Regions from separate parts of the Homo sapiens genome. Here region 1 is linked to region 2. The links come from fine-mapping of genetic effects on gene expression. A gene starts in region 2. The other region holds a variant in brackets. All regions are shown on one strand. Distances are between the middles of the regions.

Region 1 (2,912 bases), 42 kb before region 2:
CTTTCTTTTGTTGTTACATTAAGCTGAAAACATAATACTAATAGACGACTAACAGTTTGCTTATCAGGCACATCAACTAAGGCACCTCCCCCCATGCTAAGTTTCTCCTGGATATATGGAAGTTGGTTGTTTCCCAGTTTAAAAACTTGAACTAATATTACCTAAGAAAACCTGAGCCCATATTGTTTTTATTTTACTTAGCTAGAATCTCATAGCATGTTAAAGTCATACCTTATCCCCACTAAAAATAACTATGTCTATGTGAGAGGAATATTATGTGTGGGAGCTGTATTAAATACTATTATAGGTGTTACAGAATCTTTAAATAAATGGACGTGGACCAACCTTCCATCTAGTAGTGTACGATCTATATAGTGCATGTCAGTAGCACAAAATGCAGTCTTAGTTAGCATTAGCCTGTCTAATCTGAATAGTTTACTCAAAAGTACTTCTTTGTGTTAATTATTCAGCCATTGTTTTTAGATCTAGTTAATAGGTTCTATTTAATTTGCTGCAACATTTATTGAATGGGTGAGTGAAAGAACTGATGCATATTGGGAAATATCTTACCATTTTTTAAAGATAATGTTACATTAGGAAAAGAACACTTTTAAGGAATTTATAGCAGTGATGAAATGAATTCAGTCTATATCAGATACACCAAACTGTTGATGGTATTTAAATGTGACTGCAAGTTAGTATTTCTGTATATATTATTGATTACTGGTTTGTTTTTAGATATGTAAGTCTGTCCTAATCTACGGTTCACGTATTGACAGTTGCTCTGGTAATAATAGAATGTTAGTGATGATCACTTGGTGGATGTTGATTAAGTGCCTGTGTTTTGTTTTGTTTCCTCCTCTGGATACCAAATAGGTGTATGCTACTTTTTTGGTGAACTTATTTCTTGGAAGATTTGGTTATGCTATTCAGGGTTTTTATTCTTATGTTTTTCTTCTAAACTTAAGCAGCATCCTGCTGCTACCATATTAAAGCTCAAATTTAACTTTTGTGGAAAAATCAGCTAATTCAGGTAATCCAAATATTTGTGGAAAAACATCTGGGTAATTTATTGACCACATTAGTATTGTGTAGACAGCTTTGATTATTCCCATTGCATAGGTTTTTATTGTAGAATAGTCAACTTAATATAGATTCACTTTTAATTTACATGTATAAAGTAATACTCAATAAAAATTTTTTCATTTATTTAAAAAAAAGAAAACTAAGCAATCTGGCTCTAGACTCCATACTTTTAGATTGCTGTACCATTTCTCATCATAATGCTTGACTCTTAGGTGATATTTTGTCTTCTCCTGAGTCAGGCCTGGTGGTTACTATTTTCCCATTTTACAGATGAGGAAATTGAAGCCCAGAGAGGGGATTTGACTTGCTCAAGATCACAGAAATTTTCTGGTGTAATGGAAGGGGCTGTGAGCCCAGGCCAGATCTCCTGCAGTAGATAATAATCACACTAGCAGTTTTTAATTAATTTATTTATTTTTTTGAGACAGAGCATCGCTCTGTCGCCCAGGTTGGAGTGCAGTGGCGTAAACTCGGCTCACTGCAACCTCCGCCTCCCGGGTTTAAGTGATTCTCCTGCCTCAGCCTCCCAAGTAGCTGGGATTACAGGCACGCGCCACCACGCCCAGCTAATTTTTTTGAATTTTTAGTAGAGACG[G/A]GGTTTCACCATGTTGGTCAGGCTGGTCTCGAACTCCTGACCTCGTGATCCGCCCACCTCGGCCTCCCAAAGTGCTAGGATTACAGGAGCGAGCCACTGCGCCCGGCCACTAGCAGATTGTTTGTTTGTTTGTTTGTTTGTTTTTGGCTTTTTTGTTTTTTCTTTGAGACAGGGTCTCACTCTGTTACCCAGGCTGGAATGCAGTGGTGCAAACATGGGTCGCTGCAACCACTGCCTACCAGGCTTAAACAGTCCTCCCACCACAGCCTCCCAGGCAGCTGGGACTACAGGTACGCGCCATTACACCCAGCTAAATTGTTTTGTATTTTTTGTAGAGATGGGTTTTCCCCATATTACCCCGGCTGGGTGAATGTTTACTGGGTACTTACCAAGTATCAGGGGATGCATTCAGTGTTTTGTATGCATTTTTATTTTTATTTTGAGACAGGATCTGGCTCTGTTGCCCAGGCTGGGGTGCAGTGGCAGACCCTGGCTCACTGCAACCAGTCCTCCCAAGCTCAAGTGATCCTCCTACTTCAGCCTCCTGAGCAGCTGGGACTACAGGTGCACACCACCACACCTGGCAAAGTTTTGTATATTTTTTTGGTAGAGGTGGGGTTTCACCATGTTGCCCAGGCTGGTCTTTTTCTTTTTTAAGATGGAGTCTCGTTCTGTCGCCCAGGCTGGAGTGCAGTGGTGCAGTCTCGGCTCACTGCAGCCTCCGCCTCTCAGGCTCAGGCGATTCTCCTGCCTCAGCCTTCGAGTAGCTGGGATTACAGGCACGCACCACCATGCCCGGCTAATTTGTATTTTTAGTAGAGACGGGATTTTGCGGTGTTGGCCATGCTAGTCTCCTGACCTCAGGTGATCCACCCACCTCAGCCTCCCAAAGTGCTGGGATTACAGATGTGAGCTACCTTGCCCGGCCCTATGTGCATTTTTAAACTACAGTCACAACAGCCAGAGATATTAGATGCTCTCTGCATTCCCATGTTACGGATGAGGAACCTGAGGCCCCAGAGCAGTGACTGTCTGAGGTCATGTGCTTGATCGTCAGCAGAGGTAGGATTCAAACCCTGGCTTACTGACTCCCAGTCCAGTGCTCCTCATGTTGCACCAGATGCCCCGGAAGGGCAGCGGGGTTGAGAGTAGGCAGCCAGCAGGTGGGTCCGAGGGTTCATCTCTACCTGCTTTCTTCATGTCACTGCTGTCTATGGGTTTAGCTAACCCT
Region 2 (2,912 bases):
ATGTCTTTTGGTGATCACAAGTAGTCATTTCTTTCGGGTATATACCTAGGAGAAAAACTGCTGGGTTGAAGGATATGTGTACGTTCACCTTCAGTAGATGTTTCCAAATAGTTTCCCAAAGTAGTTTTTGCCTAACTACACTCCCACCAGCAGTGTGTGAATTGCCAGGATTTCTCCTTGACTTCACTCTTATGGTCACGTGTCACATCCGATCCATCAGTGGGTCCTGATGGTTTCACTTTCAAAACCTAACTGGAATCAGACAACTGCCACCACTCTAGTCTGGCTGTCATCACCCCCCAGCTTGGGGTCTGCAGGAGCCTCCTAATTAGATTTCCAGCTTCTACTCTTGCCATTCTTTAGTTGAACCTTCGCCCAGCAGCCAGAATGATCCTGTTAAATTATAAATTGGATCACATCATTCCCCTGCTCAAAAAATCCAGGATCCTCCCCAAAGCCTTCAGAAGACCACATGATCTGCCCTTCTCTCCTCCCTCATCTCCAGTCACTCTCTTCTCCACTCACTCTCTTCCAGACACAATGGCCTTGCTGTTTCTTGGACAGTCGGGACTCCTTCTCACTCCAAGGCTCTGCATTTGCTGTTTCTTCTTCTAGAGAACTCTTCCCCCTAGATCTTTGCATAGCTGGCCCTTCTCATCAGTGAGGTCTCAGCTCAAATACCACATCTTCTAGGAGGCCTTCTCAGGCCACCCCTAAAGTAGTCCTCCCTCTTACCCATTATCCCATGGCCCTAGTTTTAAACATACATCCAATCTCAAATGATCTCATCTATGCATTTGCTCACTTATAATCTTTTTCTCCTTATTAGAATTTAAGCCACTTGAGGGCAAGAAGCCAGTGGATCTCATCCACCGACGTATCCCTCGCACCATTGACCGAAACACAGGAGCGCTATCGACATGTGCCGAATGAATGAATGAATGAATGAATGAGCCCCAGGTGTTTAGGAGACCCTAACAGAGGTGCCCCCGTTGTAGGGACGACTCTCACCTGCAGATGGCCTCCTCAGGCCCTTCGGGTGGCACTGGGGAGCCCAGGGCCTCCCAGCGAAGTGGCCAGATTCAGGAACCCTTCGCACAGCGGGCACTAGGACCCTGCGCGGCGCCGCGTCTCGCGGGGGGCGGGCGGGCGGAGGGGGTTGGGGGATCCGCTCTTTCTCCCTCCTAGAGCCTGGTTGCAGCCACTTGTGCGATCCCGGACCTTGCCGCGGCCGCCTGGCTCCTTTCCGCGCCATGAGCCGCAGGTTCACGGTCACCTCGCTGCCCCCCGCAGGGCCCGCCAGAAGCCCTGACCCAGAGTCCCGCCGGCATTCGGTCGCAGACCCCCGCCACCTCCCGGGGGAAGACGTCAAAGGTAGAGGCCGCAGGGGGCGGGGCCTGCCAGGGCCGGGCGGGACGAGGGGGAGGGGCCGGGGCGGACCGTCTGTTGAAGGGGGCAGGGCCAAGACCGGGGGCGGGGAGGGGTCCCAGCCCTAGGCCTGAGAGGGGAATGGAGCCAGGACTAGGAAACCAAGGGGCCGGGGCCGCGGAACGCAAAGTGTGGAGGGGGAGGGGCCAAACGCGAGGTGGGCGTGGCCACGAGGGAAAGGGGTGGGGCCAGGGAAGGGGTTTGGACGGAGGCGAAGGGGGCGGGTCTGGTGATGGAAAGGCCGGGGTCAAGGTGGAGAGTAGGCCGTAGGGCACTAAAGGGGCGGGGACATCTCGAGTAGGGAGCGGGACCAGAGTGAGGAGGTGGAACTAGGGAAAAAGGGGGCTGTGTGTTGAAGGGGGATGGTCAGGAGCCCCTAAAGGGGAGGCGGCGGGACTAGGTTGGTTTGGGGTCAGGAAAGGGCGGGACTAGTAGGGAATGAGTTGGGCCAGGAGGATGGGAGTGGGGCCTGGGAGGGGGGTGGGGTCGAGGGCGGGAGGAAAACTGAGTCAGGGTTGCCGAGGCAGGTGCCAGGTCAGCGGGTCCTCGGTGCCTGGCGGATCCTCCAATCCTCTAGCTCCCTGGAGGCTTAGCGGACAGCGACTGGGGATCCCGGGAAGGAGACGGGAGGCAGGGAAGTTAGTATGGATCCTGGGCAGCGAGATTCAGGGAGGATGCCGTAGGGTCGCTGATCCCGACTCTTGGGGACCCACTTAGCTCCTTGTCTGCTCGAGCTCCGTAAGGGTTGGGAGGAGCCAGCTCAGGCGGGGTTGGGGGCGTCTTCCTCGCGGGCCCTGTGCAGGGTCTTGTAATGGAAGTTACACGCAGGGCACAGAGTATAGGGGAGGGGAAAGATCCTTCTGGCCTTCGGTGGAGAAGTAGCATCCTGGGCGCGTGCACAGTCTCCCCTCAGGGGGCACTCATCAGGGGTCCTCTCCCTGGCTCTGAGGCCCTCGGGTCTGGAAGGAACAAGGCGAATCGGCTTGTAGTGGCCCCAGCGAGGGGAGGAGGAGGAGGAGGAGGAGGAGGAGGAGGAAGAGGAGGAGGAGGAAGAGGAGGAGGAAGAGGAGGAGGAGGAGAAGGAGGAGGAGAAGCCTCCCCAGACCGCCAGGGGTCGCTGCCGAGCCGCAGGTGAGCTCGCCCCGAAGCAAACCCAAGCGCCGAAACCCCTAGAGTAACCCTTAGGGGGTTATCTGGCGGACCTCCTCATTGTACAGATGACCAAATTGAGGCCTGGAATTCCGAATGGCCCCAGTCCCGGGAACCGAACGCCTCCTGGTTGTGGCCACTTGGATTTCTTGGGCTCCTTCCACTCTTCATCTTTCTCATAATCTCTTTTCTCATTTTCATGAATGACCTTACCAGCCTCCCAGATTTGAAAGTAAGAAATTCTGGAGCCATTCTCAACCCTTCCTTTTTTCTTTCCAGCAAATCCAACTGATCCCCACGTCTTGGCCATTCACCTCTGAAACTTATCCTGAATC

Which allele goes with the higher level. Alleles are on the strand shown, and positions count from the first base shown. SD is a standard deviation of normalised expression in the study named.
As copies of A replace G in region 1, the expression in cerebral cortex of the gene that starts at base 1,561 in region 2 goes up (moderate effect, 0.43 SD a copy in GTEx).

What was found. PIP is the estimated chance that this variant, and not a neighbour inherited with it, causes the effect.
Region 1: its variant is the best candidate, but not a certain one, in a credible set for the expression of SLC12A5-AS1 in cerebral cortex (GTEx, PIP 0.51).

Annotation. Positions count from the first base shown.
Region 1 is chr20:45,978,687-45,981,598 of GRCh38, forward strand. No RefSeq gene overlaps it. Among named protein-coding and RNA genes, the nearest start is that of ZNF335, 7.9 kb to the left of the region's middle. The variant G/A (reference allele first, on the strand shown) is at 1,682.
Region 2 is chr20:46,020,513-46,023,424 of GRCh38, forward strand. SLC12A5-AS1 (SLC12A5 and MMP9 antisense RNA 1) reads right to left here and starts at 1,561. Exons shown (of 3, transcript NR_147699.1): 1 at 1,012-1,561. It also overlaps a transcript of SLC12A5 not described here. RefSeq lists silencers at 1,072-1,231, 1,252-1,611.